Linked DNA regions of Homo sapiens: region 2 is linked to region 1. The links come from fine-mapping of genetic effects on plasma protein levels. A gene starts in region 1. The other region holds a variant in brackets. All regions are shown on one strand. Distances are between the middles of the regions. Region 1 holds the start of B4GALT5 (beta-1,4-galactosyltransferase 5). Region 2 overlaps B4GALT5 (beta-1,4-galactosyltransferase 5).

Region 1 (4,483 bases):
AAGTAGCTGGGACTATAGGCACACGTCATCACGCCCAGCTAATTCTTTTGTATTTTTTGTGGAAATGGAGTTTTGCCATGTTGGCCAGACTGATCTCAAACTCCTGAGCTCAAGCGATCCATCTGCCTTTGCCTCCCAAAGTGCTGGGATTACAGGTGTAATCGCCCAGCCTACCTTTAAATATTTAGCAAAAAATAAAAATTTTCAACATATGAATATAGATACATACATGTGGAAAAATGATAACAATGATCAAATCCAGGTGGGGAGTGTACAGATGTTTCTTGTACTATTCTTTCAACTTTTCTGTATGTTTGAAAATGTTTCATAGATACGAGGGTTGGGAGGGGCCATTGTGTGGGCCAACAAAAACTATTTGCAAGTTAGATGATTCCGGCTAGTCTGGGATTTCTGGTCCAGGGCCTTACCTGCACTATTTCATCGAATCCACATCACATCCCCGTGGGGTGGGCAGCACTGGGTCCGATTCACAGGTGATGAATAGAGAAGCTCAGAGAGGTAAGTGACTTTCCCAGAGTCACACAGCCAGGAGATGCCAAGCCGAGATTTGAACTCACATCTATCTGAGTCAAAATTCTCTGCTTTCCTTTTTGATCGTTTAAGCCTCTTCTCTTCCACCATACCATTCTCCAGGGGTATTGAATTAGGTGACAGCTAAGCACTCTTACTATGTGCACTTTGCATGTATTACTTAAATCCTCGCAACAACCTGATGAGGTTGCTAATAACCTCCTCCATTTTACCGAGGCACAGAGAGTTTAACTTGCGTGAGGTCACACAGCTAACAATGGAAAAGCTGGGAGTCAGAGAACCTGGGCAGTGTGGCTCTAGACTCCCCACTTAAAGGATCAAAGAAACACTGTAAAAAGTAGAAATCACTTTAGGAATATAAATCAGAATTATTGTTGATTCTCACAGAATCCCTGCAAAGTCCTCTCCCCTCCCCACTGCTTCTGGCATTCCAAGACAGTACCCTAGTTTCAGATATGTCTACACAGGGACACTGGCCTCCTCAGTCCAGCTCCTTGAGGCTACTGCTTCTTGCCATAAATTTCTAGGACTGTTCATTGCCTTCTGAGGTCCTTTGAGCTGATGCTGATCTGAAAGCATTTTTTTGGATATGGTCCCATACCCAGGTGATGGGGATAGGATACCGATTTGCCTGCAGGATAAGAATTAGAGGTCATACAGACTGCTGAGACAGTTACAACCTAGAGGTCAAGGGCCTGACATGGGAGACAGGCCAGTTTTGATTTAAGCCCTTACTGCAAGGCTTGGGTGAATTGCCTTTCCATCTAGAAACCTCAGTTTCCTCATTTGTATGATAGTAATAATAACAGCACACATCTCAAGACTGGTGGGGGAATTTCATGGCATGAGTGAAGTCCATGTTTCTCAGCAGAAGTCTAGAGACATTGACAATTGTTATCATTATGCTATTTCTGATACAGTAGGATCCCTGACTACAGCTCCAAGCTCATCCCTATTTCCCCCCCTACTTCACTGGATTTTATCCATGTTGGCCTTGGATTCAACTCGGGGGCAGATCAGCCCTTTTCCTACCTCAGGGCCTTTACACCTGCTGTTCCCCCTGGTATGACTGCTTTTTCCCCAGCTTATTCAAAAAAGCTGGCGCTTTCTCACCCTTTTATATCTCAGTTCGTGTCACTGCTCAGTGAGGCCTTCCTTGACCACTCCAGCCTGCCTGCAATACATCCTCCTGTTTTATCGTATTCATATGTGTTACCAGTACCTGATATTACTAGCTGATTTGTTTCTTTTATCTCTCACATAATGTAAGTTTCAAGTAGACAGAGATTTTTATCGTTTTTTTTCTCTGTAGCATGCCCAGCGCCAACAACTGTGTCTGGCATTCAATAAATAAATGGTGAATTGAATGAATGAATGAATGAATGAATGAGGGTGTATACCAGGCCGAACCCCCAAGCCTTGCAGTCCCCACTCTTCTGCTGCAGTGGGCAACGAGATGAGTCAGACTTTGTAGATGGCCCCTTGGCCCCCGAGATGGGGGACGAGCTAGCGCGGAGCACTTGGGAGACATTCCCCGAAAGCCTGGGCGGTGGCCGCACTGGGAGAGGGTCTGTCGCCATTTGGCGATTACTCCATGCGGGCTGCTGTGGGCGCCGAGCGAGGGTCGGCGGCGAGCGCAAGCGCGCGGGTCTTTTGCGACGGTGCCCGGCGGCACTGGCCCCGCCTCCCGCGCGTGCGCCCCGCCTCCGCCCCCGCCGCTGCGCCCGCTCGGGGCCGCTCTGGCCCCCGCCCGCTTCATGTGGCCCGGCCCGCGACGGCCGGCGGCTGGGAGCGGCGAGGCGGCGGCGGCGGCGAGTGGCGGCCCGCGAGGCCCGGGAGGCGGTGGCCGAGGCCCAGGCGGTGGCGGCGGCGGCCCAGGAGGCGGCGGACGGGGAGCTGCGGGAGCAGGCCCGGCCTGGCTCTCTAGCGGCCGCCTGGCTGCAGCATGCGCGCCCGCCGGGGGCTGCTGCGGCTGCCGCGCCGCTCGCTGCTCGCCGCGCTCTTCTTCTTTTCTCTCTCGTCCTCGCTGCTGTACTTCGTCTATGTGGCGCCCGGCATAGGTAGGAAGGGGGCTTGGGACCGCGGCGGCTGCCGCTCTGGCCTTGAGGGACCCGGGGAATCCCCGCCCCTCCCTAAGGGGCCCCGGCCGGGAGGCGGCCCTGAGCCTGGTCCTCCGAAGACTCCGGAGTCCTGGCCCGGCTCTCGGGGACGCCAGGACATTCCTGCCCTCCGCACCCCAACAGGCGCCCGGGATCCCTCTCCCGCGCCAGCCTCCGGCCCACCCCGCCCCTCCTAACGCCACCCTCGCGAACCCGACTGTACCTTCACGCCCGCCCCTTGCTCCGGAACCCCCTTCCCGCTCTTGCCTCGCTGGAACTCCCACTTCCCGCTCCTCTGCTCGAGAACTCCCGCTTCCCCTTCCCTTCCCCGGGGTCTCCTCGAACCCCCATTCCCGGCATTCCCCGCACCCCAGTCCCCCGCGGCGCGCCCGCTCTTCGCCGAGCCCATGTGCCCGGGTCCCAGGCCGCCCCACCTTCTAGCTCCCATCCATCCTCCCCCACTCCCCATGACTCCATCGTTTCCTGCTCCCGTGAGCCCCCTCCCTCCCCTTTCTTCCTCTACTTCCCCTATTACATCCACCTCCAGGTCCTCCTCCCTAACTCACGTTCACCTCTTCAGTGGCCTGATCTCTCTGCCTGCCGGTGGCACCCCCCTTCCCCTTACAGAGGTCCACCCCCATTCAATCTCCTGCTAATCCCCTGAGCGTCCCATGCCTCTTCCCCATCTCCCCCCCCCCCACCTCGCGTACCCACAAGGGCACATCCTTGTCACCTTTGCCCCCAGCCCCCCAGACTTTCAGCCACAGCTTCTTTCTCAACTGAAGACCTGGGGAAGGGGTGCTGTCTGTGTTCTTTCTTCCACTTCTGCCCTCTCCTAGCCTTGAGGGTAGATGGTGTGGTTCTTCAGTATTGGATAGTGCCTGCTCTGCGGACAAAGGAGAAGTTTAAATTGTCCGTAGAGAAGGGGATATGATTGGGGCCTTTGGGAAATGGTACCAGGTGAGAAGGGGGAGCATGGAGGAAAGATGTAATGGGTACTCCTTCTTTTCAAAGTCTTATCCTTTAAAGGAAAGGCGGTCTCTGGAGAAACTGACCCTCCCACCCCTCCCCCGCCTGCCCCAAGCATAGTCTTTTATAAGACCACAGGGCACCAGTTAGGACAGGAAGAGATCAGAAGGAAAGACAGCATGAAGGTTAAGAGCGGAGGACACAGAGGTCAGACTTGGATTCCAATCTCTGCCCTGTATGACCTTGGGCAGGTTACTAAGCCTTTGCATTTCTCCTCTGTAAAATGGGAATGTGAGTCCCAATCTCATACAGTGTTAAGGATGGAAGTAGATACATGTTCTTTAAAAGCACTTACCACTGTACCTGGTGCTTGAAGAGTTTTAAAAATAAGTAAATAAAGGCAGCTATTACATGTAACTTCCAGGAAGAAGGGAGTTAGGTGGAACGCTTAAGGAATGTGTTTGCCTGACTTGGCATCACTATGAGGAAACCTCAGTTTATGGTGAAAAATGATCAGAAGATGCTGCTGGGGTAGGGGCAGGGAGAGTAAATTCTGCTAGAAAAATTTTGGATTATATGGATTTTAGGAAAGGGTTGATGGTTTAGCTGTAGGGAAATGCCTTTTAGGATTGTAGCAATAACTAGTGCCATTCTCTGTTGACCTGTCAACGCAGAACTAGCTGAATAGAGAAATTTCCAGATAGAGCAGGAGATCGTCTCCTGATTATTTTTTAAGCATATTTTACTTGTGGTTAATGTTGATGTTTTGAACTATCAACTAGATCTGGGAAGATAGAACAGGCAGCATCAGATTGCCTTGTTTACAAAGTGTCATCACGAAAAGTGTTCCTCTAGGAAGGCAT
Region 2 (4,000 bases), 64 kb after region 1:
GGAAAGTGGTGATTCTTGCTGGGGTCCATTGGTCAGCACTTTCGATTCCTTCTCAACTGGATTTGGTAACACAAGGGAGAAGGCAGGTTTTTACCTCCTCCAGGTATTAGGGTAGCAATACCAAGCTTAGCTATACATTGGAATTCCCAAGGACGTTTCCAAAGTACTGATGTCTGTGCCTGACTGCTAGCGATTCTTATTTAATTGGCCTGAGGTATAGCCTGAATGTTAGAATTTTGTTTGTTTGTTTTTGTTTTGAGACAGTCTTGCTCTGTCACCCAGGCTGGACTGCAGTGGCACCATCTCAGCTCACTGCAACCTCCGCCTCCTAGATTCAAGTGATTCTCCTGCCTCAACCTCCTGAGTAGCTGGGACACCAGGTGGGTGCCACCACCCCCGGCTAATTTTTGTATTTTTAGTAGAGATGAGGTTTCATCATGTTGCCCAGGCTGGTCTGAAACTCCTGGCTTCAAGTGATCTGCTCACCTCGGCCTCCCAAAGTGCTGGGATTACAGGCATGAGCCACCACACCCGGCCTGGTGTTAGGATTTTTGAAAGCTTCTTAGATGATTCCAATGTGCAACCAAGGCTGCTGAACCACTGGTGTGAAGCAATGCTGAATAAGCAGTTGCTGTTGGACAGAAATGTTGGTCTGCAAGCCCATGATATCAGTAGCCATTTGAACCTGTAGGTAGGAGTCTGTTGTTTTCCCATTTTCTATCTATCTATCTTCTTTTTTTTTTTTGAGACGGAGTCTCGCTCTGTTGCCCAGGCCGGAGTGCAGTGGCACGATCTTGGCTTGCTGCAACCTCTGCCTCCCAGGTTCAAGCGATTCTCCTACCTCAGCCTCCTGAGTAGCTGGGATTACAGGTACCCACCACCATGCCTGGCTAATTTTTGTATTTTTAGTAGAGATAGGGTTTCACTATGTTGGCCAGGCTGGTCTCAAACTCCTGAACTCAGGTGATCCACCTGCCTTGGCCTCTCAAAGTGCTGGGATTACAGATGTGAGCCACTGTGCCTGGCCTGTTTTCCCATTTTCTTTTTTGAGACAAAGTCTCGCTCTGTTGCCCGGGCTGGAGTGCAGTGGCGGGATCTCGGCTCACTGCAGCCTCCACCTTTTGAGTTCAAGCAATTCTCCTGCCTCAGCCTCCTGAGTAGCCGGAGCTACAGGCGCATGCCACCGTGCCTGGCTAATTTTTTGTATTTTTAGTAAGAGACACAGTTTCACCATGTTGGTCAGGCTGGTCTGGAACTCCTGACCTTGGGTGATCCATCCGCCTTGGCCTCCCAAAATGCAGAGATCACCGCGCCCGGCTTGTTTTTCCATTTTCTAAATGTAAAAGCAGCTGCCTTCTTTGCCCTTCAAGAACATGTCCAGGTTTGAAATAGATTAGATTTAAATTAAAAAGTAAAACTGTGGCTGTAGAAATTCAACAGGCTTGTTTTTCTCTCAGCATTTTCCTCATTCAGTAGGTACATGCTTTAGAAGAGTAAGAAGTTATATTTGGAACTCCAAGGGGATAAGGTATAACCCCACCCGTTGCTGGACAGCTAGCAGGGGAGAAAAACAAGGGCTCCTCACGATAACTGCACATAGTTTTACCAGGTCGTGAGCAATTAATTTCCTCTGTCTCTTTCATTTTAAAAGGCCTCTATTGCTACTGAAAAGCAGACTTTGTTTGTTTGTTTGTTTATGATGGAGTTTTGCTGTTGTTGCCCAGGCTGGAGTGCAACCGTGTGATCTCAGCTCACTGTAACCTCTGCCTCCTGGGTTCAAGCGATTCTCCTTCCTCAGCCTCCTGAGTAGCTGAGATTACAAGTACCTGCCACCATGCCCGGCTAATTTTTGTGTTTTTTTTTTTTTTTTTTTT[TTTA/A]GCAGAGATGGGGTTTCACCATATTGGCCAGGCTGATCTCGAACTCCTGACCTCAAGTGAGCACCCCACCTTGGCCTTCCAAGTAGACTTTATTTTAATTAAAGTTTTATTTAAAAATTTTTAAACAAGAAATCAGGAAATTAAGCCACCCCTCCCAAGATGTAGAGTAAGTTTCTGGAAGATTTTTGCAATAGAGTTGTTGCGTATTTGAGGATTCTTAAAACAGTGACATATTATTAATTTAGTAATCAGAAGAAAAATAAATGCTTTTTTTTTGTTTCATGCTAGGTGCTACCAGGCTTACTGTATCATTGTTTGAAGGAAGTAGAAAGGAATTTATCTATCTTCAAAGAAACTCCAAATAGTAGAATCATTAGAGTTAGTGATATCTTGTCTCTTGCCTCATGTTTTTTAAATTCTAGTTTCCTGATTAGGTTCTAGCTCTAGGGCTTGGGTCAGTCATTGACCAGAATGATTATTATCTTCGTTTTTGTTGATTTGTTTATGAAAATATACTTAGTGTAATACTTTTGGGAATTTCATTGCCTTCTAGTGAATGTATTGACTGTGCCAATACATGTTTCCAGCCAGCGTCTCTTGCCACACATGGGCGTATCACAAACACAGGCACATTTTCTATTACTTGTGAGGTCTTTTAATTTTTTTCTAAAGGAGAATAATTTCATCTATTAGATTCATCCTGAGTAATAATTAGGATGAGGGGTTCTTCACATAGATTTTTGAAGTAGTTACTACCTTCAGAAGAAGATTCAACCCAGGCCAGGTTTGCATGTATGAGCTGAGCTCAGAGAATTTCTGTGTAAATATTATCTTTAAGGTTCTGTCTTGGTTCATGTTTTTGTTTTTGTTTTTTTTTAAGATAGGATCTCATTCTGTCACCCAGGCTGGAGTACAGTGGTGTGATCATTGCCCACCGGAACCTCGACCTCCCAGGCTCAGGTGATCCTCCTGCCTCAGCCTCCCGAGTAGCTGGGACCACAGGCGCGCACCACCAGGCCTGGCTAATTTTTAAAATTATTTGTAGAGACAGGTTCTCAGCATGTTTCCTGGGCTGGTCTTGGCCTCCTGGGCTCAGGCAATCCTCTTGCCTCAGTCTCCCAAAGTGCTGGGATTATAGGCATGAGCCACCCCACCCAGCCTGGTTTATGTCTTTATATAAATTAGTCTCTACTATTCTCTATAAATGCAGGCTTAGTGTTTTTCAGGAAAGCTACTACTGAAAAGGACAGAAAGCATTCTGTTCCTTCCCTTGTTAAGACACAGTTAAAATTTTCAAGTTGCCTCTCGTTGAATTTTGCCCCAGAGTACTTGCAGAGTAGGCAGCGCAGAGTAGGCAGCCGTGTGCATATATAAAAGGATTCAATGTGTTAGCCATTTGATTCTTGGAAACCTGCTCATAGTGCTTTTTCAAAAATATCTTAGTTGAAGATTCTAGAATTCTAGGGTACAAAGTGAATTTGAACAGGATGTTTTAATTTTCATAGAATCAGCATGGATCCAAAAGGATTTAATATTCTGTGAAAAAAATAAAAACAATACAGTATACTGGAAGGATCTCTCATTCAGAGTTTAGTTGGAGCTCTGTCATGCATTAGCCAGGGCTCCTGGTCTGAGTTCTGTGTATGTTGTTCCAGTTATTCATCTGTAGAAAATGAGGTTGGAGGACCCTCCTCCTACTCTACAAGTACAGTCCCCTAGGAAAAAGACATCTGCCATCACACTCTTCATATCCACTAACGTGACTCTAAAGGGGCATACATATGTGAGGGTTTTTAAATTATAAACCCTTGAGAATGAGAACACAAAAGGAGACCACAGCAAAAAACCTTGGTAGGTAGAAAGCAGAAGAACCACTGATAAAAGACTTAACAAACCCAAGAAAACTGACTGCTCAAAGCAGCAACAGGAGAACCAGCAACCACCCCAGGATCCCCCAGAAGCTCAGGAACTAGCAATATGGGAAGTAGGAGCAAAGGTGGCAACTAAAATAAAGGGAGATTGAAAGCTGTTAAAAAGCAGTCAGATACCCAGACCCATTTCCCCATCCTGGCAAGAGCTGGAGACTTAATAACCCCAGAGATGGCAAAACAGAGGCTCCTCAA

Evidence for each region. A credible set is the group of variants that fine-mapping cannot tell apart. PIP is the chance, under the fine-mapping model, that this variant and not a neighbour inherited with it causes the effect. Sun 2018 read protein levels with aptamers (SomaScan).
Region 2: its variant is the best candidate, but not a certain one, in a credible set for the plasma level of the B4GALT5 protein (Sun 2018, PIP 0.63).

What each region holds. Positions count from the first base shown.
Region 1 is chr20:49,711,705-49,716,187 of GRCh38, reverse strand. It overlaps B4GALT5 (beta-1,4-galactosyltransferase 5), which reads left to right and starts at 2,310. Exons shown (of 9, transcript NM_004776.4): 1 at 2,310-2,612. The coding sequence starts at 2,498. RefSeq lists silencers at 2,098-2,427, 2,718-2,837.
Region 2 is chr20:49,648,334-49,652,333 of GRCh38, reverse strand. The region is part of intron 2 of B4GALT5 (beta-1,4-galactosyltransferase 5); the gene reads left to right. Among named protein-coding and RNA genes, the nearest start is that of B4GALT5, 64 kb to the left of the region's middle. The variant TTTA/A (reference allele first, on the strand shown) is at 1,875.